Linked DNA regions of Homo sapiens: region 1 is linked to region 2. The links come from fine-mapping of genetic effects on gene expression. Tissue or cell type: whole blood. Region 2 holds a variant in brackets; the other region holds the start of a gene. All regions are shown on one strand. Distances are between the middles of the regions.

Evidence for each region.
Region 1: it holds the start of LPIN1, and the variant in region 2 is fine-mapped to the expression of LPIN1 in whole blood (TOPMed, PIP above 0.99).

Annotation. Positions count from the first base shown.
Region 1 is chr2:11,737,200-11,752,306 of GRCh38, reverse strand. LPIN1 (lipin 1) reads right to left here and starts at 5,675. Exons shown (of 21, transcript NM_001349206.2): 1 at 5,636-5,675. LOC124907735 (a long non-coding RNA gene) reads left to right here and starts at 6,848. Exons shown (of 2, transcript XR_007086220.1): 1 at 6,848-8,479; 2 at 11,005-12,371. RefSeq lists silencers at 2,130-2,189, 5,427-5,996, 12,850-13,144 and enhancers at 2,650-2,699, 2,720-2,979, 3,752-4,423, 6,935-7,508, 13,353-13,652.
Region 2 is chr2:11,779,044-11,794,150 of GRCh38, reverse strand. LPIN1 (lipin 1) reads right to left here. Exons shown (of 21, transcript NM_001349206.2): 7 at 14,506-14,632; 8 at 11,644-11,950; 9 at 10,229-10,322; 10 at 9,075-9,265; 11 at 6,984-7,077; 12 at 5,695-5,764; 13 at 2,145-2,237. Among named protein-coding and RNA genes, the nearest start is that of MIR548S, 19 kb to the right of the region's middle. RefSeq lists a silencer at 9,134-9,428 and an enhancer at 14,024-15,107. The variant G/A (reference allele first, on the strand shown) is at 11,371.

The DNA of each region.
Region 1 (15,107 bases), 42 kb after region 2:
TCAGATGGTCCAAAATCAAAGCATTTCATTAAAACCCCAGGGCCCATGAAAAGTAGGAGAATCAGACATCGTCACTCACTACTAACAGGGTCATAAATGGGGTAAGCAATGTGGCAATGCCCATCTTTTGGGGCACCTATTGGCAAACCCTAGCAACTATACCGCTGGGAACTGATTGTACAAATACAGTAAGATCCGTGTACAAAAACAGTAACTGTAGCATTAATTGTAATAGGGAAAATCAGAAATAACTTAATATCTGTATGACTCTGGCTTAATAAATTATGGGCCATCCACATTGTAAAATGGAATATTATGAGGCTGATAATAAAATGGTAGAGAGGTAGCTCCATAAATATTAACATGAAAATGTATATATAGAATGAAAACAGGTACAAAAATACTTATAATATGGACCCATTGTGGTTTTTTGTTTGTTTGTTTTGTTTTGTTTTGAGACGGAGTTTCGCTGTGTTACTCAGGCTGGAGGGCAGTGGCGCAATCTCGGCTCACTGCAAGCTCCGCCTCCCAGGTTCACGCCAATCTCCTGCCTCAGCCTCCCGAGTAGCTGGGACTACAGGCGCCTGCCACCAGCCTGGCTAATTTTTTTGTATTTTTAGTAGAGACGGGGTTTCACCATGTTAGCCAGGATGGTCTTGATCTCCTGACCTCGTAATCCACCCATCTCGGCCTCCGAAAGTGCTGGGATTACAGGCGTGAGCCACCGCGCCCAGCTGGACCCATTTTTAAAAAATTACATTTGTACATATTTTGATATGCATAAAAAAATTCTGGAATGAGATACATACAAAACAAGATTCACAAGATTCACCCCTGGGGACCAGCCTGGGAAAAGGAGGAAGAGATCTTCACTTTTTATCATAAATACTTCCCATAGTGTTGCTTTCTAGCTTGTGTTTTTTATGTCTGCATGTATTTCATGTCAATTATTAGTAACCTCAGAGAACTGGGAGTGAAGGATGGAAAACTCTGGTCCACTCAGTCTCAGGGTCTCCATCACTGAAACCACTGAGACAGGACAGGGTGCTGGACAGGGGTACTCCTGCTTTGGAGGGAAGGTCAGATGAGTGATCACTCAGCTCCTCCAGCGCTGACACTTTGCAACCCTCAGATACCACAACCCCAGGTGACGCTTGTTCTCACGTTCCTGCCAAGAAATACAAATGGCCTGGATAAAGGTGGGTGTAGACATCTAAATATGGTATGACAACTATGCTGAGCAAAACAGCCCAAGGCTTTGACTCCGATCCTTTGGCTCTTAATTATTTAGCTCACTGATTAAGGACAGGACGTTCTTTTCCTTCAAAGACCCAATGGCACATTCTCTCTACGCACTTTCAAGAGCCCTCTGTCCAAATTCGTGTCTTGGTCAAAAAGAATGCTCTGCCCTTATAACTTTATTTCTGTATTACCCCCCACCCCTACCACACCCCAGCAATTGGGAGGTGGGCATATATCACCTGGGTGTTCCAGGGCACTATTAGGAGACAATATAGCTCAGCAGGTAAGAGCGCAGGCTCTGGAGGTATTCAAATCCTGCCTCCACCTTCCACTAACTCTGTGATCAAAGACAGGTTACTAAGCTCTCTGCACTGCAGTTTCGCATCTATTTTATAAAAAGGGATGACATCAGCACAGCCACCTCATAGGACTGTTGTGAGGCAGTAAATGTAAAGTACTTTTCAAAGCACATGCACCAAATAAAAACCACGTGCTAATTCTGTGACCACAAACTGGTTCCAGACAAAATCCGGTCTTTGAATAACGTCTCTTGCCAGAGGGGACTTTGTATATATCACCTATTTAAATAGTACCTTCCCAAAAAGACAGAGGCAAAGAATATTACTAGTTAAAATGAATACAGAACTATTTGAAGGCTATGCCTACATTCCACATTCTCATTTGCCCAAAATCTGAGCCCAAAGAGGCCACCCCGAGACTGGTGGCATTCTGGCATTGCACAGAGTCCAATGGTGGGACATTGTTTTGCCAGAACAGTTGTCTGGGCGCCTGTCTTGTCTGGTGCCCATTATCCTAAAACCCTTGTTGCTTGTCTCCTGTCTTGTAAACTGAAGACCTACAGCCTAGTGAGATCCATGAACGCGGAGGACGACTTCATCAAAAAGTGAGTGTGTGTGGCTAGGGGACAGAGGGCAAGGGGAGAGGTGCGAGGGCTTCCAGGGAGCGAGGCCGGGGAGGGGAGGGGGGCACAAGTGCGTGCCAGCAGGCAAATGGGGGTGTTGGTTGTGTCTCCCATGCAGGGTCTGTGGTCAACTTTGTGAGCCAATGCAAATCAGCTCACACTCAGGAACAAACAGGCCTCCTTACAGAGCAAAGTGCCTGTTCTAACAGCCTATGGCTATTTCTGGAAAGCCCCAGCATTCAGCATCAGCCGAAAATTTTAAGTTGTTGCAAGAATCACAACATTTGGTCAGTGGGTTGAAAAATCCACTGTAACCATGACCCTGTAGCCATGACCACCGGTGTGAAAATGCTTCTGGCTTCTCTCCTGATGGAGCCCAGTCCATCTGGTTCCTCCCAACCTCTCAGCTGGGAGTGGGAGCGGCACAACGCGCCCTGCATCCCTCAGTGTGCAGAACAGCCTGTGGGCCAGACACTGCTGAGGTTTTAAGACTCCTGGGCCACATACCTCATTGTGAAAAGTGTCAGCCTGGGTCTGGGTCAGCCCAGACCCAGAGCTTTCTACAGGCAGAAACTCACTACTCAACATATCCCTGGCTGCACAGACCCCACCCCAACCCCAGCTGCTAAGGGCTTGTTGGGGTGAATTACAGGTAGGGAGACAGACAGGGGAAAGCTGTGGAAAGAGGAAGAGGAAGGGAACCCACAGGAAGGGAGGTCAGGGCACTTGCTTCGGACCCCAGCAGCCCCAGGGCCCAGTGTGGCCTCCTAGGGGGCACAGATTCCCTTCAGGCGCTGGTGCATCCTCTGATCAAGGAGCAGGGCCAGTGTGGGTGTGTCCCCTCGACACACAGGCATGGGCCCCTCTCTCTCTCCAGACCCTCCCTCACAGCTCAGAAAGCGAACATTTCAGAAACAGCCATCCGATAGGCACCTGGGCCTCTTCTGAATGAAGAACCTGTGACGTCACTGAACGGCTTTGCTTGGGTTTTGTCCCAACTCTTTTTTCCCCACACACCCCGTTCCAGTTTTAAATGAGTGGGCTTATTATACAATACATTGGTCCAGGGTTCAATAAAGTGTCAAAATTGTGACTTTGCCCTTCTCAAGGAACAAGCCCCAAAGCTGCTAGTGGGTGATTCCAGGGACTTCCTCCTCAGGACCCCTCAAAAGCTCCAAGATCCCACGCCCGGGCTACCAGTGAGGAAGTGCAAGTGCAAACAGGTCGAACCACCAGCCTCGGTGTCCTGGCGGGACCTAACACCTGGATGTCTCTCAAAATGCTCCAAAAGCTGCCGACATCCGTGCAACAGCCCCCTCCCACCCTAAGGAAAAAGCTGCCTGTACCCCTCGACTACCCCCATTGGCAGGCTTGCCCAAATCAATTAACCTCATTTAGGTACCTTTTAGGCCTTGAACCCAGTACACAGATGGTCCGGAAAAGCCAACCGGAAGAGAGGTGGCAGGCAGGGGGAGGGGGTGTCCCACAGGGATGATTTACAGAGCAGAGGCCGGCGTCAGCCAGGACTGTCCCAACCCCACAAAGAGCCCCTCCTCGCTGGCACCCTGTGGCACTTTAAAATCATAACAACCACAATGATTCGTGGACCCCATATTATGTTCCAGGGGCTCTTTTTTATCTCAATTAATTTTTGCAACAATCCTGTGAATGGGTATGATTATCCCTTCATTTTACAGATGGGAAAACTGAGGCTCAGAGGATTGAAGTCTTCTGCCCAAGTTCTACATCTGTGAGTGGTCAGAACAACAACTGCAAAGCCCAGTGCTCTGTGCCGGCCTCGGCGCATCTCAGACCACGGTGGCCTCAGGACCTTCTTCTGAAATATCTTTTCATCTCCTGACCCTCCCCTGCCGTCTGTTCTGGGCCCTTTGTGCAGCTGACCACGCAAAGAGCAGGAGAGCAGGACCCACAGACTTCCTTCTGGCTGGGCCAGGCCAATTGTCCCCACCTAATCCAGGGCAGGCTCCTTCTCAGTCACTTCCAAGGTCCCCCCTACAACCAGGAATCCCTGCGGTCTCTCACCTGAACCCTCGCGTTCTCTCCCACACCACAAGACTCAGCAGGTCCGCCCCTTGTCCCCCTGTGCTTTTCTAAAAGAAAGGAACTGCTGATAAGCGAGACCTGGGTGGGTGAAAGAACTCGCTCAGGGTCCCACAGAGCTCAGGCAGAGCCCAGACCTCCCGACCCGAGTCCAGGGCTATATCCAGGCCTGGCTCCACAGGACCACAGGGCCCCACATGCAAATAGGAATAATAAGCGCCAAAACACACAACCCATGCACAAAAACACTCAATAACAAATGCTGGCAAACGTGAAGTGCTATCAAAGTATATAATCATAAATCCAACTGTTACACCTTTCAACAAGAATCTGGGAGCAAGAAAAGTGTTCATGTGTGGATGTGCTTATTTCTCAAATACTATACATTCCTCAACTGCTTACTTTCATTAATAAGACCCAAATTACGGAACAAAGGATAAACAGTCAATCTCACAATCACTACCCCTAGACCACCATACCACAACACCCCCAATTAAAAAAACGGCTACAAGCTTTGATTTCCCAAAACACTTCTATCCTGTGGGAAACTGCCGGGTTCTAAAACATCTCCAAATTAATACTGCCAGTTGTCTTAGTTGGTTTCCTGCTTGCTGATCAAAAACAGGGTTGACATCTGCTTTCTCCAGCAACTACTGACCACACAAATTACCTACTCTAGCTCCACAGCACTTAAGTTACTCCCAAAACGTTACTTCTCATCCTGCATTTTCCTGGCCTTGCCCATAATAAAATTACGTGCAGGAGCAGCTGACGGAGCTCACTAGGCCTAGCACCTCCTAGGCTGCAAGAAAGGTGCAGAGGCCTCGCAGGGGAGAGCTGTAATATGAGAACCGGGATTCCAACCTGGGCTCAGCCTGCCCTGCCGCCCGGCAACTGTATGACCTTGGGCACAGAGGTCAACCTCCCTGAGCCTCAGTTTCCTCAACTGCAGCGCTGGAATCCTAACTCCGGGGGAAAGAAAGGCTCTCATCCCAGTCCCCGGCGCAAAGCTGGGGATGATCGCGCAGAGCCAGGACGCACCCGCGCTGGCCGGCTGGAGCTAGTCCCCGCGGTTCTGGGACTGCGCGGCAGCCCCCAGTGGCCCCTACGCCGCTCGAGATCAGCCAAGCCGGGCCCACACCGGGCCTCGCGGCGCGTCAGGAAAGCCAGGCCCGAGGGATGCTCGCGAGGCCCTCCCGGCCTCCGGGGCCTGTTTCCCCGCCTCCCTCCCCCGAACCACTTCCCGTAGAGGGCCCCGGGGACGTAGCCCGGCCGTCGGTCCTCGGGCCCCGGGGCCGAGCCCCCGCCTCGCCACGCGTCCTCAGCGCCCCGGCGCCGCGCCCCGCCCCGCCTAACCCGAGGCTGCGGCCCCTGCTCCACAGCGGGAGGCTGGAGGCGGCGGCTACTCACCGAGCGGCGCCGCGCGTGGCCGCCTTTGTATTGCAAACACCCAGCCCGCCGCCGGCTGTCAGCGCAGCTCGCCTTCGGGGGCGGGGCAGGGGCGGGGGCAGAGGGCAGGGGCGGGGCAAGCGGGGCGGTGCGAGGGGGACTCGGGACGCGCTGGTGGCCCGGCTGCTTTCAGGGCCTGCTGGCCGGCCCTGCCCGCTCACCCCTGGCCGCCTATCTTAGCGTTCCTGGGGGTGGGGCCCCTTAGGCCGCCTTTCTGATTTTCCTTTCCAGAGCCAAACTCGTGTGTTTCTTCAACACTCTGACTTGACCTATGCCGATGACTGGGGGAGTGAGGACGGAGGGGTGCAGAGAAAAGGCAGCCAGGTAAAAGTCCAGGTAAACCACCCAGGGCCTGGCCGCGATCACGTCGGTCCTATGGGTCCCGCTTATCACCAGTGGCGGGATCTGAGCCCGTCCTTGACTTTACTGACCCTCGCCCTTCGTTTCTTCCACCTTAAAGGCGCAATCGCGTTGACCTATCGCCATCTCTTCTTAGCTTCTCCACGCCGGGCCACCCCTGTCCTTCATCCTGATGGTGACAGCCTCCACTCCCGCCTCTGCCAAGCGGTGGTCCAGGTGCGGAACGGTGGCTCTGAACAGGAGGGACAGGCAGCTCCCTGCGCCTCTCCAGCCGGGAGGCAGGCAGCGGATAAACAATGAGCCACATAACGTCTGGTGGTGAAATGATTTCCATCAATGGGAGGGTGTCATATTTGAACTGAAACTCTAAATGACAAGAAACACCTATGACTACAAAGATGGGGAGGAGGCAGGGCTTTCTGGAGAGCAGAAATGGCAGGTGCAAAGGTCCTGGGGCCGGTGCTGTGGGCTGGAGGGAAGGCAGGGGCCAAATATTCAGGTCTTGTAGGCCAAGGCAAGGAGTTTAGGTATTATTTAAATGTTATTCCAAACCAATTCTTTTTGAGACAGGGTCCCACTCTGTCACCCAAGCTACAGTGCAGTGGCACAATCTCGGTTCACTGCAGCCTTCACCTTCTGGCCTCAGGCAATCCTCCTGCCTCAGCCTCTCAAGTAGCTGGGACCACAGGTGCATGCCACCACGCCCAGCTAATTTTTCAAACTATTTGTAGAGACCAGGTCTCCCTATGTTGCCCAGGCTGGTCTCAAACTGCTGGGCTCAAGCAGTCTTCCCACCTTGGCTTCCCAAAGTGCTGAGATTACAGGTGTGAACCACCACGCCTGGTCCAAAAAGAATTTTAAACCTGGGAATTATATGATCTAATTTACTTCTTTAAAAAGTCACCCCTCCACTCCATGGAAAATGGACTGCAGGAGTAGAAGCCAGCAGACAGGTGGCACTGCAGGAAACCGGGGGACATGATGGTGGCTCAGATTACAGGGGCTACTCAGCAAGAAGCGGAAGGACTTCAGAGAGATTTGGAGGCAAAACCCACAGGCTTACTGATGAATGGAACCGGTGGAGGTGTGTGATGCGATACTCAAAGGCAAGTCTCAGTGTGGAGATGGAACCGCTGCTCTGCTGAGATGCAGAGGGCCAGGGAGGAGGCCAGCTTAGAAACAGCATCGAATGCGGCAGCTTAGTGAATTGGATAAGCCAGCAAGCTTGAGATAGATGTTTGGGGACAGCTGCTTGGAGAGCTTTGTCCAGGGGCGCGGCTCCCGTCCATCTGGTCAAGTGTGGACACGCTCCCGCTGGGCTTGGGGCAGCTCCTATCTAGGCAGCCTGTCCCATGCTGACATTGCAGACGTGGGAGCTACACAAAGAGAATCTTGCAGTTTGTAGGTGAGCTACCTCCACAGGGGTTTTCTCAGAGACCAGAGTTTCAAGTGCATCACGGCTGCCCAAAACTGCTGAGGTTGCAAGGCCCCAGAAGGAAGCCCTCCTGCACCCTCCCCTCCCACCTCCAGGGAGGAGCTGGCCTGGGAAGAAGTCTACTCTATGTGGAAAGGCTTTCCAGGAAGCCAGTCCAACTTCAGGCCACTTAAGTTTATTTTTTGTGTAAAATAAGTCCATTATTCAAATGTGGAGATGGGAGGTCTGAAAATATAGGACAATTCAACTCAAAGCCCTCATTCTGAAAATGATGAGCTGGGGGGCCCAGCACGGCTAGGGTCAGCTCTGATGAGCAGGGTCTGGCTGGATTCAGAGCAAATTAGGTCCCGCTGCTGCCCAGCCTACCACCTCGGGGAAGGCCAAGGGTTGGGGGGAGCCTTTTGTATAAACAAGCAATGAGAAGAAAACACTCACTAGATCACAGTGCACTCCCAGGCGATAAACGAAACCGGACTTTCCAAAGCCCTGGCGCTTTTGATCAGGCACTGGCTGGAGTCCCCCTGGGAGGGCCCTTGGCTGTGCTATCAGCAACCAGGCCTGACTGAGCAGTGACTCAGCCAGGAGAGCTGAGGCGATCCCCCTGGCCAATCCCAGGACCTAGCTGCACTCGGAAGAGGAGAAGGAACTCCAGGGATGAGTAATCTTGCTCTAGCTGACTGGAGGAGGAAGGAGGGGCTGAGTAATGCCTTAGCAAAGCCAGCACAAGCATCCTGATTCTAGAGGCTCAGTTTCACAATCCAGGAAATGGGCTGCAGGTGCACATGACACAGATCTGCTTTGAGGATGAAAAAGGCATCATGGGAAGCTGCTGTCACAGTTGTGGGGTTGGAAGATTTTTCAATTCTAAAACCCCATAAGTTGAGGAGTGGCCATTCCCAGAAGGATCTGTTCACTGCTGAGCCCAGCTGGTGACAGTAGCTGTTGTATCCCGAGAACTCTGAAGTTGTCCAGATCAACCACCTACACAGGCCCAGAATACCTGGGGCAAGGTAGGCGGGAAGAATGAGCATCCCTCTTCACGGGTGCCCTGCGAGCTACTGTAGGAAGGAGAAACACTGGCTGATCCCCCAGGACTCTGAGCATGGTTAGCTCTGTAACTGCCCGGGCAGAAAGGATCCCAAAGAGAGGACAATGAATTCTTCCCCTAGAGGTGCAGACTTTTATCCCTGGCACCAGTGCCTGGGGCTCCGGGGAAGGGAGGGCATCTCCTCGGGGTCTAAGGCCACTCCTTGGTTGGGGGCCCCTCACGAGGTGACTTTGTCCTGCGCACTCTCTTAAGAACCAGGTGGGAACCAGGGGCCACCTGGTGCCGCTTCACTACCTTGGTGGCAGGGAACAGAGCAGCCTGGGAATCCACCCAAGGTGGAATGGGGCCCCCTGGGTGCTGTGGCTGGCTGAGCAGGGAAGTTTCATGGGGAAGAGGCAGGTGTAAAAGGTTCTGGGTTCCGCAGGGAGAGGACAGTGATCCTCGGAGAGCAAACAGCTGGAACCAAAGCACAGAAGGTTTTGACGGTCACCCGGGCTATCCAGAGGCCCACTTCACAGTTAGGGCAGGGCCTGCAGATTAGAGTTGAGGCACAGGAAGTGGCAGAGTGATAAAGGCTGACAGCTGGACACACAGGAGCATCTTGGAGGCCCTAGGCTGAGCACTGGGGGCTACAAAGGGGAGCAGACCAGACACAGTGTCTGTCCTCAGGGAGTGCACAGTCTGGGTTGTGATCGCGTAAAAACTGTCACAGTGCTTCAGGCCGCTGTGAACTGAAGGGCCGTGCACTGATGCAGGATTTGACCTGCCCTGTCCCCAAGCAAGAGGATTCACCTGACCTTGGTGGCCTAAGCAGGCACCGACCTAGGCAAATCTAGGCCAGGTGTCAAGGAGCAGAATGAACCACGGGCCAGCCAGCAGCACATGCACAGCAGTCAGGCACGCACAGGTGCTTGAAAGAAGGCCGTGGCTGGCCGCTGGTGGGCGGGGGAGCTCGGGAGCTCACAGCAAGCCCCATGCCTGTCTCCCACTGGATGAAGCCAGAGGGGGTCTGGAACGCCCTTTCTCCTCTGGTCAGATTGGGAACAATTCATAATGAGCGGGGCTAAGACACAGAACAGCAGAGAGGCAGGAAAGAAGAAAGAGACCAAGGTGCGAGGAGCGGACAGGGAAAGAGACCTCAACATGACCAGGGATGGGAGGAGAGAACTCCATTACTTAGAAACAGTGGCTGCTATGCTGGGAAGTGTGGACTGTTACAGTGGGCTCTAATTCCAGGAGGAACAAAAAGACCCCGCATATCACCATGAGTCAGTCCTCTGAGTCGCCATGACCCATGACCTTGCTAAACAAGTGTGGGGCTGTCACAGCCTTAAGCAGCACATCTCAAGTCTCACATTCTCCAGTGCTAAGAAAACAGCTACACAGACAGAATGCTAAGGAGAGCTCAGAAGTAGAAAACCCTTAAGAGTCCCCCCTTCCTTAGATAGGAAAACTGAGGCCCAGAGAGGCAAACAATGGGTCAGTATGTGTGTCTAAACTTATCTAAACATAGAAGAGGTATAGTAAAAATACGGTATTAGAATCTGATGGGAGCACCATCGTATACGCAGTCTGTAGTTGACCAGAACATTGGTATGCGGCACATGACTGTAGATCTTCTCATTAATAATAGGCAACCTGGTCAGGTGCACGAAGTCTAGGGTTCAGAATCCAACAGGCTCAAATTCAAGTCCAGCTCAGCCACGTGGCTGAGTGCTGTCTGAACCTCAGCGTCCTCAGCTGTTAAACAGAGGTAACCATCCCCATCTCAGCAGCTTTGGGAGGAAATTAAATGAGATATATTGGGATCCAGATAACCAATAAAATATCAAATCACTTTACCAGTTCAAGCTCTTACCACTCAGTGATTGCATGGACTTATCACTGACGAATGAACTCAGGAGTTCAGGAGTTCGAGACCAGCCTGGGCAACATCCTCACCCAGCTAATTTTTGTTTTGTTTGGTTTGGTTTTGTTTTTGAGATGGAGTCTCACTCTGTCGCCCAGCTGGAGTGCAGTGGCACGATCTCGGCTTACTGCAAGCTCCGCATCCCAGGTTCACATCATTCTCTTGCCTCAGCCTCCTGACTAGCTGGGACTACAGGCACCCGCCACCTTGCCCGGCTCATTTTTTGTATTTTTAGTAGAGACAGGGTTTCACTGTGTTAGCCAGGATGTGTATTTTTTTATAGAGACAGGGTTTCGCCATGTTGCCCAGGCTGGTCTCAAACTCCTGAGCTCGAGTGGCAATGTTTGGAACCAATTTACGCAGTTCTTTTCCTTGCAGTTGCCAAACAATATTATTTATCTAATGGTCATAACACCTTAACAGTAATAGAACTACTGAACAGCAGTGCTTACTCTGCTCATGGATGAGGTTTCTAGTTGTCTTCTGTTAAGCAGGTGGCCTTGAATTCTGGCAGCTCACGCTTCAGAGTTACCTGTGGACACACGACATCATTCACAAAATGTTCTTTTTCTCTCCAGTGTCTCTCGAGAATGAAAATGACCAGGCCATCCTCACATTCTACAGAGGTTAACCCAGCAACTTAGGGACACAGCTGGGGCAGGACTCCCGGGCTCCTGGTCAGTCCCTCTATGGGGATGCTAAGCCTCAGGGCTGACATCTCTTAGCTCTGCCTTCCAGGGAGAATTTCACAGGGCCTCCCATTTGTGCTGCTGTGAAGGCCGTCCTGCTCCTTGTCAAGCCTGTCTTCTCCGTGGCTTGAGGAAGATCTCTTTCGTGCCCAAATTGTGAATAAGTAAACTGGATGCAGCATCTCTGATTGCTCTGGGAAGAAATTTATGAGAAGTGCCTGAGAAAAGTCATGATTTTATGCCTCTGCTAAGCAACCTGTTGGACACTGCTTGGTATCTACAGCTAAGTGGTTCCCTGTTCAGACCTGCTTCCTCTGATTAGCAGCCACAGATCTTCTGGGTTTTCACTTGTTTATTTCTGTTTATTGTCATCTCTGGGAAGATGGCTTCAAATTTTTTATCCCCCAATTATTTAACCCCATATCAATTGATAAGAAGATCTTTTCTTTCTTTCTTTCTTTCTTTCTTTTCTTTTCTTTCTTTCTTCCTTTTTTTTTTTTTTTTTTTCGAGATAGAGCCTCACTGTGTCACCCAGGCTGGAGTGCAGTGGGGTGATCTTGGCTCACTGCAACCTCCACCTACCAGGTTCAAGCAATCCTCCTGCCACAGCCTCCCAAGTAGCTGGGATTACAGATGAGTCCCACCACACCCAGCTAATTTTTGTATTTTTTTTTATAGAGACAGGGTTTCGCCATGTTGCTTAGGCTTGTCTGGAACTCCTGAGCTCAAATGATCTGCCTGCTTCGACCTCGCAAAGTGCGGGGAAGTTATAATTGAAGGGTGTGATGGTTAATTTTTGGTGTCAACTTGACTGGGTTAAGGGATACCCAGATAGCTGGTACAGCATTGTCTCTGGGGATGTCTTTGAGTGTGTTTCTGGTAGAGGTTGGCATTTGGATCAGTGAACTGAGTGAGGAAGGAAGATTCATCCTCACCTGTGTGGGCTGGGCTCCATCCAATCAGTTGAATTCCTCAATAGAACAAAAGGGCTGAGGAAAGGCAAATTCACTCCCTTTTCTGAAGCTGGGACACCCTCCTTCTCCCGCGCTTGGACATCAGCACTCCAGGGTCTCCAGCCGTCGGACTCCAGGACCTGCACCGATGGCCCCTCAGGTTCTCAGGCCTTTGCACTCAGACTGAGCTATGTCACCAGCTTCCCTGGTTCTCTAGCTTGTAGACAGCAAATCATAGGACTTCTCAGCCTCCATAATCATGTGAGCCAATTTCCAAATTAAATCCCCTCTCATTTATCTATATCTCTATCTATCTTATTTGGTTGTTTCTCTGGAGAATCCTGATACAAAGGGTTTACATTGAATGTCATTCGCATATGGTTATATAAATAGTAGCCGTTTTAACACCCTCATCTAATTCTATCATGAATGTCATTTCTGGATCTGTTTATATTGATTGATTTTTCTCCAGATCCTAGGTCATATTATCCTGCTTCTTTGCAAGCCCAGTATTTTTGTTTGGACACGGGACATTGTCAGTTTTGTACTGTTGGTGGCTAGATTTTATTATATTCCTTTAAACAGTGTTGTGCTTTGTTCTGAGATGCAGTAAAGTTACTTACGATTAGTTTGATCTTTTTGAGCCTTGATGTTCAACATTGTTACGGCAGATCCAGAACAGCCTTTGTTTTAGGACTAATTTGTCACCTCTTTGAGGCAATTCTCTTCTACTTTTCTCCTCGATGTCCTGAATTTTAGGGGGTCTTCCCAGTCTGGCTGATGGAAATGTAGTTTTTGTTGCATAAAATTTACCTCAAAACTTAGCAGCTTGAATCAACAGGTATTTATTCCCTGCAGTTTCTTGTGTCAGGAATCCAGGAGTGGCCCAGCTGGTGGCTCTAACTCAAGCTCTCTCGTGAGGTCGCAGTCAAGGTGATGGCTGGATTGGAGCCCTCTGACTGGGGCCAAAGGATCTGCCTCCAGGACGGTGACTCACATGGCTGTAGCCAGGGGCTCCATTTCTTGCCTCATGGACCTGTCCGGAGGCTGATTGAGCAATACAGCTTCTGGCTTTCCCCCAGAGGGGCTGACCCAAGAGAGAGCAAGCAGGAGCCACAAGGCTTTCTACACCCTAGTCTCTAAAGTCACAAACCATCATCGTCACTTTCACCACATTCTGTCCTTTAGAAACATATTAGTAAGCCCAGCCCACATTCAAGGGAGGTAGGTGTAGGCGCCTCTTTTTGAAAGGAAGACTATCAGATAATTTAGGGATCTATTTCTAAGCTGCTCTCACAGACACACAATATCCCCAGGCCTGAGTGATTTCTGGAGATCGTTCTGCCTGCAAGCTCCTTCCTTGGTGGTTTCCTCACATTCATGTGCAGACCAGTACTCAGCTGAAGACTCAAGGCACTCCTTGCAGATCTCTGAACCATTCTCTGTGGCTCCTTCTTCTGCAGATCTCTGCCCTGCAAATTCTAGCTCCCTTGGCCTCCCGGAAGCCCACACTCCATCTCCTGAGCTGGGCAGGCCCTCAGGCTCTGTTTGGGCTCCCTCTCCTGGCACTGCTGAGGTGGACACTTGTGAGGCTGCTCTTATTGCTTCCCCTCTCCCAGGAATCCCTGTCCTGTTCTGCCTATTGTCCAGTGTCCACTAACTGTTGTTTCACATACTTGTCCAGCTTTCCGGCTGTTTTTAAGACAGGAGGGTAAACCTGCTCCCTGTTATTCCATCAGGACCAGAAGTGGGACTCCCCAGCAGCGGTGCTGGCTCCTGAAAATGAGTCAGCGGCCATGTAGCAGAGGGGAGACTGACACCCTCCCCTCTTCTTCTTCTTTTTTTTTTTTTTTAATTATACCTTAAGTTGTGGGATACATGTGCAGAACGTGCGGGTTTGTTATATAGGTATACACATGCCATGGTGATTTGCTGCACCCATCAACTCATCATCTACATTAGGTGTTTCTCCTAATGCTATCCCTCCCCTAGCCCCCCACTCCCCAACAGGCCCCAGTGTGTGATGTTCCCCTCCCTGTGTCCATGTGTTCTCATTATTCAACTCCCACTTATGAGTGAGAACATGCGGTGTTTGGTTTTCCGTTCCTGTGTTAGTTTGCTGAGAATGATGGCTTCCAGCTTCATCCATGCCCCTACAAAGGACATGACCTCATCTTTTTTATGGCTGCATAGTATTCCATGGTGTATATGTGCCACTTTTTCTTTATCCAGTCCATCATTGATGGGCATTTGGGTTGGTTCCAAGTCTTTGCTATTGTAAATAGTGCTGCAATAAACATACATATGCATGTGTCTTTATAGTAGAATGATTTATAATCCTTTGGGTATATACCCAGTAATGGGATTGCTGGGTCAAATGGTATTTCTGGTTCTAGATCCTTTAGGAATCGCTACACTGTCTTCCACAATGGTTGAACTAATTTACACACCCACCAACAGTGTAAAAGTGTTCCTATTTCTCCACATCCTCTCCAGCATCTGTTGTTTCCTGACTTTTTGATGATCGCCATTCTAACTGGCGTGAGATGGTATCTCATTGTGGTTTTGATTTGCATTTCTCTAATGATCAGTGATGAAGAGCTTTTTTTCATACATTTGTTGGCCACATAAATGTCTTCTTTTGAGAACTGTCTGTTCATATCCTTTGCCCACTTTTTGATGGGGTTGTTTGGTTTTTTTCTTGTAAATTTGTTTAAGTTCCTTTTAAATTCTGGGTATCAGACCTTTGTCAGGTGGGTAGACTGCAAAAATTTTCTCCCATTCTGTAGGTTGCCTGTTCACTCTGATGCTAGTTTCTTTTGCTGTGCAAAAGCTCTTTAGTTTAATTAGATCCCATTTGTCAATGTTGGCTTTTGTTGCCATTGCTTTTGGTGTTTTACTCATGAAGTCTTTGCCCATGCCTATGTCCTGAATGGTATTGCCTAGGTTTTCTTCTAGGGTTTTTATGGTTTTAGGTCTTATGTTTAAGTCTTTAATCCTTCTTGAGTTAATTTTTGTATAAAGTGTAAGGAAGGGGTC
Region 2 (15,107 bases):
AACCTTTGGAGATTAGTAAAACTGATGAGTAGACCTCAGATATGCTAACAGAAAATGTCAAAGAACAATTATATCTTGATAAAACTCTTCCAGCAAACATTTTCCCTTTCAACTAATGGCATAAATAGAGTTCATGGCAGTTTATGATTAAAATAACCAACTTGACTGTTGTCCCTGTGGCTTCTTCATACTACTTTCCCAGAGTAATCAGCGTGCCCTCAACAAATATTTGCTGAACCCCTACTCTGGGTCCAATATGGAGACCAAGAACACCAAAGCAATCAAAGCCATATATGGTCTCTGCCTCATGAAGTTTCGGGTCTAGACAGAAAGGAGAGGTTCATCAAATAGTCACGCTAGTAATTACATAATTATCAACTATGACAAAATTTATGAAGGAAAAGTTCACAGGCAGAGGACAGCAGACCAGACTCATCTGCAGGGAAAGGGCTACTGGATCTGCTAGTTAGCTAAGCGAAGCAGGGGAGAGGGGTCCACAGAATACTAAGTAATGAAAATAGCATGTGCAAAGCCCCCAGGGTAGAAGGTACCTTCAGCCATTGAAGCTAATGCACAAAGAGCAGAGAACAGCAAAGATGAGATTAAAGAGGCAGGCAGGAGCTAGAACACACAAGCACTGTAGGCCGTGGTAAGGACACAAGCCTTCATTATAAGAGCCCTGGGGAACCACAGTAAGGCTTTAAGGAGCAACAAAAATAGGAGCAGTCCCCTGAAGAGACCAATGCATCTGCAGTACAGAGAATGAAGAAGCAAGGGTGAGGATGGGTGCAAAGAGACCATCTGGAAGCACCTCTGGGAGAGATGATGGTAATGCAGATTTGTGGGAGCAGAGCTGGAGAGACATGGACACGTCAGAGAAGTATTTCAGATGGAAAACTGATAGGACCTGGTGTGGGAGTGAGGCTAAAAGCATGAATCTCACCCACAGATGGACAGTGGTGCCATTTTCTGACTATGGCCCCAATGATGGAAGAACTCACAAGAATCCCATGAGTTCAATTCTGGAAGCGTTAAGTTTGAAATACGTTGAGGCATCCACAGGACGATGTCTGCTTAGTCGACTACTTGATAAGTGGATGTGGAGTAGAAAAGAATGTCTGGTTTGGAGACAAAAATGGAGTCATCGCATGGGCAGAAGGGAAAAGTAAGAAGTAAAAGGAGAAAAGGTGGCCTAACATGAGCTTTGAGGACCCTCCTAGAGGTGACTAAGCCAGAGCAGGAGCAGCCTGCTGGGAGGAGGAGACCCAGGTGGACACAGGGGCCTGGGAGCCAAGCAAAGCAAGCGCTTCAAGAAATAGAGGAGAGGGCAACGAAGATCTGAAAGAAATCACAGGCACTCATAGACATGAACGCCAAAGCCATGGACCTTTAGACATGCCATTTCAGTGAAAGGACTCAGAGAATTAGTCAACTGCTGTGAGTATGCCTCATTAAAATTGTCCTCACAGCCTGGGCATGGTGGCTCACGCCTGTAATGCCAACACTTTCGGAGGCCTAGGCAGGCAGATCGCTTGAGCCCAGGAGTTTGAGACCAGCCTGGGCAACATGGCAAAACCCCGTCTCCACTAAAAATACAAAACTTAGCTGTGCGTGGTGGTGCATGGCTGTAATCCCAGCTATTCTAGAGGCTGAGATGGGAGGATTGCTTGAGCCCGGGAGGCAGAGGTTGCAGGGAGCTGAGATTGCACCACTGCACTCCAGCCTGGGTGACTGAGCAAGCCCGTCTCCAAAAAAGAAAGGAGGGGAGGGGAGGGGAGAAAAAGAAAAAGAAAAATTGTCTCCACAAGCAGAAGGAAGATATTTAATTTCTTAAGAAACTGAATTCCCAGGCTGAATCCCTTCTTTTATAGATGACGAAATCTTACCATGAGGGAGTGACTGGACCACAGTCTCCCAACAGTTACAGAGCCAGGAGGTGACACCTATGCTGCTGGCTCCTGACCTTCCTCCCCACCTTCCCCACGTTCCACGAGCACTCGCCCTACTTCATGGCAGAGCTGGCTCATGGAAACTCAGCACTAGGGCCTATCTTCATTTCTCTGATGTAAGTACATGAAAACCAATCTCACTACACAAAACCAACACTTGCTAAGTGTGAGCACTGCTTTGTCTTCTGGGCTTACCTCCTTGATTGTGGTGTTTCTTCCCCTCCATGAAAACCACCATCTTCCTCCCTTTTTGGGCATTTTATCCCTCATGATAGATTCCACAGTGGCCTGTTTTAAATGGATGGTAACATAAATAATGGAACAAAAAAAGATCAACTTAGCACATTCAAACCAAAAGAAACATACATGCAAATTAAAGTAAGATTTAAAAAAAAATCAGAGAAAACACAACATACTATTTGTGCGTTAAAAATTTTAGAGAAGCAAAACCTAATGGCGTCCAAAATTACATGAAGGTAACTTAAGCATGAAGACTTAAGAAGATGTTAAAGGAATAAACAAACAACAAATAAAATACAACACAACAACAACAACAAAAAAAGAAAGCATTAGAAATCATTAGTGATTAGTAAGACTGGAAGTTTTCAAATTAAAGTGGCTAACTGGTTAAGATATCATTACTCTCAATATGATGATTATCAAATAAAATATGAAATGATTAATATGGGATAGAGGATAAAACAGTTTTCAACAAAAGGTAAAATGCATAAGATTTTTACTAAGGGTAAATTTCTAAACATTTGCATTAATAGGTACATTTGATTTAAAATCTCGAGTATTAAAAAGAAAATTCATACTTTTAGGTAAATGGGTTTAATGGGGAGATTAAATATGAATTGATAATTTTCTACGTTTTTCCAAAGAACAAAATACCTATCTATCTTGAGGTTAATTCCAGGACCAAGGTAAAAGTTAGGTAATGTCCCTTCCTCAGTTTACAGAACTTTCAAGAAGCTGACACCTCAGCTAGTAACAAAAGAAAGATTTAAGCTGAAAGATTCAGTCTAAGGGAAGCAGACAGATAAGTAATTTACTATGTAGCTTAAAAGATCCCTATCTGACACAAAAGAAAACCCAACTGCACTAAAATGCAAACCACTCACATCCAGCTCATAAATAGGACAATTGACAAAGCTGTGAATGACCCTATTTCCCCTAAATCCACTCATAAATGTAACAAAACCACATTTTTTTTAAAAAAAGAAAGCAGGCCAAAGAAAGGAAAAAAACAAACAGGAGTATTTTCAGTCCTTCACAAACTGATTCTAATGTTCATTTGAAAAACAAACAAAAATAGCCCAGAAAATTCTCAGGCAGAAGAGTAGTAAGTAGAACAAGCACTACTGGGTATTAAAATATACCAAAATATATGGTAACTAAAAGAATGCAGTGTTGGTATACAAGGACACATATCACAGGAACAGAAAACGAAGTCCAGAAATAAATCTAAATTCACAGAGACACGTAACAGAGGGTGAAGTTGTAACTGCCTCTGAGTGGAGGATAGGGTTAGTTAATACACGGTCCTGGGATAATTCAGTAGCCATGTCAGACCCTGTGAGCAGCTCATCTGCCTCCCCTTTCTTGCTGACAGATCTGAAACTCTGTTCAAGAATCAGGCTGCAATGCATGCGGAGAAGACTGGCTCAACTCCAGAGGATGCACCTCAATGGTCGAAGCCGTTCACAGTCATTTCATTGCTTTGCCAAGAAGTGCTTTAGTGGTGATCATGTGACCAAGTCTTGAACTATGAGAGAGCTGCCCCTACCCTCCCGTTTCAGATGCGGCAGTCTGAGCAGACGATGTGTACGGCAGTCACCTTGTGACCATCAAGGAAAAGCTGAGAAAATCACAAAGAAGCTAACCCAAATTCATCAAGCCTGAAACTGCCAACCTCTAAGATCCTCATCATATGAGATCATTACTTAAGCCACTTTTAGTCATTCTGTTTCCTAAAACAAAAATCATCTTCACCAATTCAATAACTTCCTGAGAAAAAAACTGGTTTGCTTCCTAATACCTCTCATTACACTTGAAACAAAATCTAGATGGATGAAAGATTTTAAGATCTTTCGAAATTTCCAAAACTTGTAAAAATATGCCCCATATACAAGAAAGCACAAAAAGAAAATATAGGGCCTATCTTCACAAGTTTTGGAAATGGGGAAGCAGGGCCATTTTATGTGTGATACAAAACCCAACAGCCATAAAAGATAAGATGGGCAAATTCTACATTTAAAAATAATTTCTATATTAGAGAAATGCCATATATAGTCAAAAGTTACTGACTTGTAGAAAGATTTAGCATGCATATCACAAGGACTAATGTCTTTTAAGTTTCAGAGCCCATGTGGATTTCTTCTTCAGTGAATAAATAAATCCTTTAGCTATATTGCTATTGCAATGGCCTTTTTTCTTACGGATTTGTAAGTGTTGAGAACGGTGACATAAAAATGTGTCCCAGGCCATGGATACCATGGCAGGGACAAAATAAAAACCACTCTGGAGAACATGCCCTCAGCCCAGTCCACAAAGATAATCAGATAAAGCACCACCCAGGATGAGACTGCGGTCCTCAAAACACAACACATGCACACACACACACGCACACACACACGTGCACATCCACATCCACACATGCACGCACACATGTGCACATCCACACATACATGCACACGCGCACACACGTGCACATCCACACATGCACACACGTGCACATCCACACATATACACATGCACATACACACACGCACACACATAAGGCACACACCTGCACAAGCATGCACACATACCCGCATGCACACACATACATGCGCACACACACGCATGCAAATGCATACACATGCACGTATGCACACATGCACATGAGCACACACTGACACACAGGCACAGGCACACACACACACACACACAAACCCAGGAAGCAGCAAGCCTAGACTCAACAAAGTCCAATTAGACCTTCAAGAATCTCAAGTGTTTGAACTGGCTGACCGACGGCAACATCCTAAGCCATACAAAAGCTTGCTAAGCGCACAAAGGATACAAACAAGCCTAAGGCAGTCTCTGCAGCAAAGAACGTATAATCTAGCAGGAAGATCTATCATTGAAAAAATTAACAACTCCAGGCTGACTGTCTAGTGAATTGTTTGGGGTAGGATGAGAACACTGCAGACTGGCAGGTGGCGTGGCTGCCCTCCTAACTCCTCCCTACGGCCACTTACCTACTCTCCCCTGCAGACTGGGAGCTGTCCAGGCCCTGTACTGGCTCTGGCCTCAGAGACTCAGGCATGGGGCTGGCTTCCTGGCTGAGCAGCACTTGACACTGACACTTGACACTTGACACAGGGCACCTGCACCTGACCCTGATGCCTGCTCCACCTTTCCAGGGTGACAATCATCTCCCTTTGTCCTCACTGGGCTCTGAGGTCCTGGCACCTGTCTGCTCAGCCTCCACCTGTACCCCTTGCATGGCAGATATTGAGAAAGGAATCTTCGGTCCGCTCGACCATGATTGGGAGGTTTTGCCTTGATAAGGAAGAGGGGCAACCACGTGCAAGGTGCAAGAGAGAGATCAGAAACTCCTGGCCTGTATGCTCATGAACTTCAAAAGAGCACAGTGGAATTAACTCTGTAGTTTCCAAAATAAAAGTGAAATTCCAACCACCCCAGATTAAGCTACCCATCATTTCTAGCATCCCCTTTTCTTTCTCATGTTAAAGCTCACCTTTGGCAAAGGTTTCTGGAAGGCCTGCATTGCCAGGAGGAGGGGTGCTGCTGTTGTCCAGTTATAATATCTAACACAAAACAATGAAATATATGTCAAAAAACCGAGGCTCAGACTGAAAACCTTTCCAATGTCATATAAAGTAGTCAAGGAAAGCTCGGGACTCCAGCGAGGCCCTTAAAGAGCTCAATACTCTTGCTAGCCCCCAGCCCTCCTCCATATCACCCCTAGGCAGAGGCTCCCCCCACCTCACCCCAGCGGCCAGTTGAGGGCCCAGCAGCAGCCGTGCCAGCAGGGCAGACAGTTGGACATGCCAGCAGCCCAAATCCCACCGTACAGCTGCTGCACCAAACCACGACGTGCTTGGGGTATTTCTTGCCACGTGTCAAGGTAAAGGCAACTAGGTGTAAAACATCCATGGCTTAAGGGAGAAAAGCTTGCTAACAGTCTGCAAAAATACCTGTACATCCCTTGCCCTCAGATAATGAAGTTTTTCTTTTCTTTTTTTTTTTTTTTGAGACAGAGTCTTGCTCTTTCACCCAGGCCAGACTGCAGTGGCGCTATCTTGGCTCACTGCAACTTCCGACTCCCAGGTTCACGCCATTCTCCTGCCTCATCCTCCCGAGTAGCTGGAACTACAGGCGCCCGCCACCGCGCCCAGCTAATTTTTTGTATCTTTAGTAGAGACGGGGTTTCACCGTGTTAGCCAGGATGGTCTCGATCTCCTGACCTCATGATCCGCCTGCCTTGGCCTCCCAAAGTGCTGAGTTTACAGGCGCCAGCCACTGCGCCCAGCCGATAATGAAGTTTTTCAAAAGGGTAGAGATGTAGGCTACTCTGACATACCCATGTACTGCAGAGTGTGACTATTCACATTCAATAAGAACATCGAGCTGGGTGTAGTGGCTCACACCTGAAATCCCAGCACTTTGCGAGGCGGAGGTGGGAAGATCTCTTAAGCCCACAAGTTCAAGGCTACAGTGAGCTACAACTGCACCACTGCACTCCAGCCTGGGAGACAGAGCTACACCTTGTCGCAAAAAAAAAAAAAAAAAAAAGAAAAAGAAAAGAAAAGAAAACTCACAAGACTGAGAGCTATCTGAACCTATCAGCTATATTGCCAATTCTATTGGCATGGAACCCTGACCACAGTGAAGATAATGCAATAATGCAATGTAGCAAAGTCTTTATTTTATATATTTCTAAGGCTTAATGTCTAGGTCTATTTGAAAACATGAAACAGAAACAGTATCATGCTACTGCCAAAGTGACTTTCAAGAGGTACTTACTTACTCCCAATCTTTACCACGAGATTGGGGTCATCGATAATAGCGGGGTTGTCCACAAACTGTTGATATGACACAGCTTGCTCCAGGAATGCATCTGTGACAGCAATTGCAGAGGATCAGGGAAAAACAAAAAGAAAATTCAGTTCAAAATTAGGCCTACCTTTCATTTGCTCACTCACAAGTGTTTTCTGAGAGTTTGTGCATTCCAACTGTGCAGACAATCCTATAAAATGTATTTGTAAAGGCCGCACCATTTTACCTGGAAGGCGGCGTCTGTGCAGCAATGCAGGGAGGCCAGGGCAAGGCTGAGGATGTTGGGGGACGTGTACCTTAGTTGAGGCACATACGTTCACACAGGGAGTAGGGGTGAAAACAGCACACACGTGCATCTGCACAGGCAGAGTCATGGCTACGCATGGCGCAGAAGCCAGGCTCCCTCGGCTGAAGTCACGATTACGGGGGTAACCCTGGGCAAGCGGTTCACCTCCCAGGCCCCAGTTCCCTCCTCTAGCATGGGGATAATAACCACATCTGCTTCCTAGGGTGGTCATGGGGACTGATAATGTCGTAAATAGAAAGCACAGGGCCCTTTCAAAAATGGGGCTGCCTCCACCACAATCAGAAGCAGGCAGGGCACTGTTCTCATCATGGTGGGGCAGCCCCACCAGGATCAGAGCAAAGGAGAAGGTGGCAGGGTCAGGAGGCCCAGACCTCAGCCCCGGACCCTCAGTTCTTTGACGGGCTCTGGCAGCTGGGCTGTACCTTAAGCCTTGACCGCGGTTCTGACCATCTCCCTGGCCCAGAGCCACGCCCACTCCTTCCCTGGGAGCTCCTATTTACCCTGAACCGAACCGAAACCCAGCAGACATCAGACACTGAGAATCTCCTCCGTCCAGGAAAAGAGTCCCTGGGTCTTGATGCCAGCCTGACTGGCTTCAACATGCACCCTCAGAGCCCTAATCAGGACCTCCGGGGACTCTCCTGGGGTCTCCTGACTGTGACGATCTGGCCTCACCTGTAAGGACTGGACAGCTGCAGATCCTGGCCCCATGAGATAACACTCAGATAACGGTGCCCAGCCTTGTCAGTGCTGCCACCCCACCCCCACCAGCTCATGTATATCAGGGAGGGAACGCCCAGGGGACTCCTCACGCCAGTGTCCAGAGAGCCCCCATGACTTCAGAAACACAGTGAGGCTGGGTATTAATGTGTGGCCCTAGGAAAACTGAGTGAATGAATGGAGCCGGCGGGACCCAGCACACAATCTTGTTTCCGCTCTCAAGGGACTGGCTGGCACGGGCGTGAGAACAAAAAGGTCTCAATCTTTGCGGAAGAAAAAATTCCCAAAGCCTTGAAGGGACCAGGGTGGAGGCAGGAGTCTCACATGGCAGCCCTGGTTGGAAGGGGAGATGGGGGTGGCTCCTGAGAGGTAGAGGGAAGAAGTACACAGCCTCGGCCCCTTCCCTGCTAGAAATACCACGAGGGGATGGAAAAGAGGCAGTGGTGAGAGAGGGGGCGGGAGGGGTGCAGGGCCACTGTGTCTAGTCCCCAGCTGATAACTGCTGACTGCACCCACTGGGGGGCGTGGGCACACCCTGCCATGGAACTGTCAGGAGGCCCTGGGAGTGCATTGCTACGAATGTGGCAGGTGCTGTGAATGAATCACCTAAGCCCACCCGATTAACGCCCTTTGAATCCAGCTGGGAAAAGTTCCCAGCCCTCCTCCGACAAACTCAGACCTCCCTGTTCCAAGGCGCCGGCGCACTTCTCTCTCGCTGCCGACACCCTCTAATTTAATTAGACTGACACCCCCTCTAGCCTGCAGGCCTCTGGAGGCCATCTCTGCAGTGCTAGCCTGGGGCACAGGAGACACACAACGATGGCCCGAGCCATGGGTGACCCACAGAACTCTGAGGCCGACTAACTGCAAGCCAGAAACATCGGGATTATGAGTTCGGTGCTATCATCTGTGCTATCATTAACCGCAACCAAGGGAAAAGCTGCCTTGACACGCACTCCTTGGAGAAGCCTAAGCCTCTGCGCCTTCTGACCGGCGGCCACCAGAGGGCGCCCGCGCGAGGCCCGCGGTACCTTTCGTGATCTCCCGGTGGTCGCTGAGGCCCCCGCAGAGGGAGATGGCGATGGAAGGGAGGTCCCTCAGCCCGTCCGAGGTGCTCTCCACGCCACTGTCCACGCCCGAGCTGCCCACCGACTGCGGGGACTGGTTGGCTGACCGGGCTCCGTTGTCGCTTGCATGTTTTGCGAGTCCGGAAGGATCTCCGCTGGAAGGAGGAAAAGCGGCAGAGACCGGCTGAGGACTGTCCCAGTTCAGGGTCCTACATCACCATCCAGTGATGCTCTGGCACGCGGCCACCCTCAGAGCCGCAGACGGCTGCATCTCAGCACAGATGTTTATTAAAGCACCACGACAAGGAAAGAGACATTAAACGCCTTAGCTTAGGAGAGAAAACCATTACTTCTCAGCTGGCTGCATCTCCCTGTATCCCCCTAAAATATACTGAAGAAGAAGCAAGCTGTCCTCCCTGTTCCCTGCCCTTCCCCTCCAGGCGCCAGCCCTGCCCTAGATCGCAGGGGGACTGAGGGTGGGTCCCCAGGATCACGGGAGACCCTCCTGGGGGAAAAAAGGGCTGCACAGCTGCCACTTACTGGGCTGTGGACCACGACCACTGTGGACAACATGACCTCAGGCTTTGCAGGGAGGGCAGCCCGGTGCTGCGCCCCTGTCCAGAGGTGGGGCGCCGCCCAGTACCCGCACCCTTATGTCCATAGAGCAGGCGCATTTCACAAGGCAATGGGAGCCTCCCACTGCCTCTCTCTCACACTTTTTTTTTTTTTTTTTTTTTGAGATGGAGTCTCACTCTGTGGCCCAGGCTGGTGTGCAGTGGCATGATCTCAGCTCAATGCAACCTCCGCCTCCTGGATTCAAGCAATTCTCCTGCCTCAGCCTCCCGAGTAGCTGGGATTACAGGTGCATGCCAGCACGTGCAGCCAATTTTGGTATTTTCAGTAGAACGAGGATTCACCATGTTGGCCAGGGTGGTCTTGAACTCCTGACCTCAAGTGATCCGCCCACCTCAGCCTCCCAAAGTGCTGGGATTACAGGCGTGAGCCACCGCGCCCAGCTGTCTTGCACACTTTCTAATCAAACATAAGGGGAAACTGGTCTCACACAGAATGATATTCAGATTATAGGAAATGATGTGAGGAATTAACAGGAATTTTACTTTTTGGGAAAATACAGGGCCGCCACTTCAGGATCCATGTCTGTGAGGTCATCCAAGTAGACGCCGTCAGCACCAAGATGTCGGCTTCGTTTATCTAAAACGGCAAATGGCTCAAGTCAGAAAACCACTCTTCTAGAAATGAGCTCATGGCCTTGTATCTATAGAAACAGCATTTAAACACTATGTGCAGATTTGCTCCCAGGTACTCAAACTGCCCAAGAACCACAACAGTTCCAAGTGTGTTCTATTTTGTCTGGTAAAACAGAATGGCAAGAGCTTTTTAGACAAATACTTTGAGGTTTGGGCACAGTACCGTTGAGGGTGAGGTGGTTTTGATGGACTTATTCCATGATGTTGCTGGAGAAAGAGTGGATTGAGGTCACACTTGTAGGTACCGAGGCCCCTCGCTGGAGGCCACAGCCTGCGCTTTTCCCATTGGAAAATGGTGGGCAGTACAACGTGACCGTAGACCACCAAGGTCCACAAACCAGGGCCGTCATCCACCATCGTGTGGCCTGGATCAAGTTAGTTAACTTGCTGAGCCTCATTCCTCCTCTGTAAAGTGCCTGAAGTGTACTGAGCACTAAACGCATTGAGGCTATTACCATTATTATTACACTTATTATGAAATGATAAAAGCTTTTATTAGGCACTTCCCCATCAATACCCCGAGGCAAAGCATCCCACACTGTGCATTGTCAGACACTGGCCATGATGACTTCAAATGTCCTCTTTACTTCTAGCAGAAAATGATGTAATTGGTCCATATAATTCTAGAAAACCACACGAAGCTGCTGGGTGGATGGAGATCAGGCCTGGCATCGTTGATACTAACACACAGCCAGGAGTGCATTAAACCAACACAGAGCGCCCACTGTGTGCCAACCACTATGCCAAGCGCCGAGGAGAGAAAGGCAAGTTAGATAGAAAAGACTCTTGATCTCAGACAGCACATATTCTATGGGGGAGTCAGGCAAAAATAAATCAATAAAATAATGATCATTTGAAATCATGATAAATGATATGCAGAAATTACAGTGGGTAAGGGGCTGGAAAGCAACGCAGGGCAAGGAGAGAGGTGGCCAGGATTAACCTAATAATCAGCTTTATAAAAGTCACACTTATGGGTCCCATGGTGTGCT[G/A]GAAAGGACTTAACTCTCCCAGGTCTCAGCGAGCAGCCTCAGTGTGTAAAATGAAGTTTGCTACATGATCCTCAAGGCCTTCTTCATGTCTGATTTCCTATGACTAAATTCCGATAATTAATATATTCTGCTGAAGAGCTCAGACTGAACATGATCATTGTCACGGTTCAGTTTCTACCTCAGTTTCCTTGGAACTTTGGAAAGGACCTGTCATGTGTAGAGTGAGCACAAACTATGAACAGAAAAAGAGCCGGGAAGCCCCAGCCTTGGTACCTCTTTTCCTGGAAGGAGAATCCGTCTTGTTTGCTGTCTGGACTACACTGGCAGAGGGGGGTTTGAGCTCCTCGATCATGGGCAAGAGTGGCGCTGCTGCTCCTAAGGTCTCCAGGTCTTCTTCATTCACAAACTGCATTTCTGTCTGAGGCTTGTTCTGGTCCAAAAGTGCCCCACCGACCAGAGTTGGCGATTGGTCACTAAAAGTGTCTGAAGATTCGCTGTGAATGGCCTGAAAGTGACTTTTATCACAAATTTTTCTACTGCTCAATGGGCTGGACTCTTTCATCTTGTGTGGAGAAGAAGACTAGAGCAAAGAGGAGAGAGGGACAGAGAGAGAGACAAGGTCAGCACAAAGGCAACCAGAAAAACTGAGTGACCCAAGGAGAACAAGTAATCAAAAGTAGGCAGGGACTTTTAAGCCTCAACAATCACCTGGTGATTTCTATACCTGCCAAAAAGTCCAGAAACCAAGAATATTAGGTCCAAAGCAAATGAACTTTCCTGTGAAACATCAACTGCCAAAGAGAAGTGAGATTAGCAATGCCAACAGGCAGGAGCACCCTAAATGCTGTTAGATTACAAGTCTTTTCACACACACTGGGATTCTCAGTGGCCATGAGAATAAATGAATTACAGCTACACCAACAACATGAATGAATCTTGCAAAACTAATCTCTGTTGCTAAGATCAAGTTTCCCCTTGCAGGGAGCAGAGGGGTCAGTCTGAGCAGTGACCGCAAAGAGTGGGGGTTTCCATGCTGCTGGTCATGCTCTGCTTCTCGGTCTGGGTGCACGCTGCACAGATCTGTTCCTGCTGTGAAAATGTATTGAGCTATACATTTACAATGTGTGTATTTCTCTGTATGTATATTTCAATAAAGTTTATTCCCAAAACATGAGTGAATAAGTAAAGATTTGGTGACAGTTGGTTCACATGAGTGAGAAATTAGCATTTCTGATTCTACCGCCAGAGGGATTTCCAGTTACAGAAAAGATTTATTCAAACAAAAACCAAAATGCAATTCATGGGCTAAAAAGAGGGGAGAAAGTATTCACTTCTCTATCTGATCAAACAGCTTCAATTGCAAATAAAAACAATGCTACAGAAAATCTGTGGTTACAACTATTTTGCCAGAAGAAGTGATGGATTTGCACTTCCATGCTGTTTCTCCAGCAACTAACGACATAAACTTGCAAAGAGAGTTGGCTGGGTCAGCACCATAGCTGTGGACAGGTAAATCAGCATTTTCTATGAAATCTAAATATAACCTAGAGAGGAAATGGATCCACAACTTTGGCCTCAACAGACTACTCTCCAAAAAGCTGCCCATCTTGACTCTTTATAAGGGATGTTTTCAATAGTCATTCACTCACTCACTCACTCATTCATTCATATTACAAACATTTATTGGGGATGCAAGAGGCTATAGCATCTTCTAAGGACCTTACAATATTTTTTAAAGCTTGTGATATAATAACATAATTCAAGATGCTTATAATACATTAGCATACCAAATAAAATTTCTTGAAAGAAAAGATTGTGTTCATTTCATGTTTTTAGAAACATATTTGCTGAACCAGTTATGTACCTACATGTAAACCCACTGCATATCCAAGATAGGGAAACTGGGGCTCAGCGTGCATGTACCACAGCCAAGGAGAAAGAATGCAAATATTCAGAGGGCCTACAGGTGCCAGATACTTCACATACCTACATTAGCCCTTCTAACCTCACAACAATTCTGTCATTTTCTCACAGTTTTACAGATGAAGACACTGAGGTTCAGGGAAGTCTACTCATTTGCCCAAGGTCACCTTTTTAGCAAGCGGTGCAGTGAGGACTCAAACCCAGAATAACCTGCTGCCTCCCAGGCCCTCATTCTCTCCGCTACCCTCAGCTGCTTCTCTATTTATTTTGGAGATCTCCATAGGGTCAAATTCAGGGTCCCACCAACAATGAGGGCCCAGAAATACTTACTACTTGATGAATCAAAACCTTAAGGTTTTCTGACTTTGTTTATCTATTAGGCTGAAATCTTTCATTTCTGTTCTATTAGCCTTTCCCTCTCCCAGGGCTCTCCCAGATGTCTCTCTGTGTGAGGGACACAAGAACATGTGGATTCCAGCTCTTACAACTCAGCTTCTTTTTCAATGGGCCAAGAGTCCACAACTCTCTCCCTGTGGCTTTGCTCCACTCATCAATGACCTAGCAGACTCAAGAGCTGGAAGCTATTTTTGTTTACAGTTTCAAGACAGCAAGATTGTGTGTAAGTTGTATTTCTTTAATTTAATTTGCATTTAGCTGTGATAGAAAATGTAGATCCTGGCTGGGCACGGCAGCTCACGCTTATAATCCCAGCACTTTGGGAGGCAGAGGCAGGCGGGTCACTTGAGGTCAGCAGTTCAAGACCAGCCTGGCCAACACGGTGAAACCCCGTCTCTACTAAAAATACAAAAATTAGTGGGGCGTGGTGGCATGCGCCTGTAATCCCAGCTACTCGGGAGGCTGAAGCAGGAGAATCGCTTGAACCTGGGAGGCAGAGGTTGCAGTGAGCCAAGATAGAGCCATTGCCCTCCAGCCCGGGTGACAGAGTGAGACTCTGTCTCAAGAAAAAAAAAAAAAAGTAAATCCTAAGAGGAATCCCATAGGTTTAAAATCTACAAAAGCAATGAGACCTCTCTATAATGTTGGTAACGTGGAAGAAAGTAATTCCAACATTCAAGGCTAACCCTTAATATATTTTGGTTTACCTCTGGCTCCTGGTAGCTGTGTTTCTTGGCTATGCTATGATACTAATTCCATGTAATTTAAGCTGAGTTAGAAATCTTCGGTCCGTGGCAGAATTGAAGAGACTCTCACCTTAGCAGCCTGCGGCAGCTCTCCCCACAGCCAAAGCATTTCTGGGTTCTTCTGCCCTGTCCTTTCCGTGGACTTGCTGACCAATTCTGAATCACTTTTAGGTGTTGAAGGTCGGGAACCGGAAGGACTTAAGGAAAACACAAAGCGAAAATTAAGGTGGGAAAAGAAACTTTTGTAAATGTTTTGGGCCCAGCTCCATGGCTCAAATAGCCCAGAAAATGCACCCCCAGCTGTCGTTCGCTCTGAGCGGAGCCTCATGACAAATCCCTCCTCCGGCCACCAGGGGGCAGGGAAGCGCCTCCCATGGAAGGCGCTCCACGTGGGTCGCCCGCCCCACCCTGCCGCCTGGTGCACCGCGGGGGAGAGGAGAAAAAGAAGTGGCCCAGAATACAAAAGAAAGAGATGGAAAGAGAAAGGGAAAAATAGTCTGTTCTTACCTCAAAAAGACCACCCTTCCCCACCCCACTCTGCACTCGCATCTCCTGCAATCTGTTTCCAAATCAAGTTCCTCTGCTGTCAGAGGGCTGCAAAAGGGTCTTGGTTGGCTCGGGCAGGCACTCATTAGAGTCCATATTTTAAATATTTATCATCTGCACTGGCCT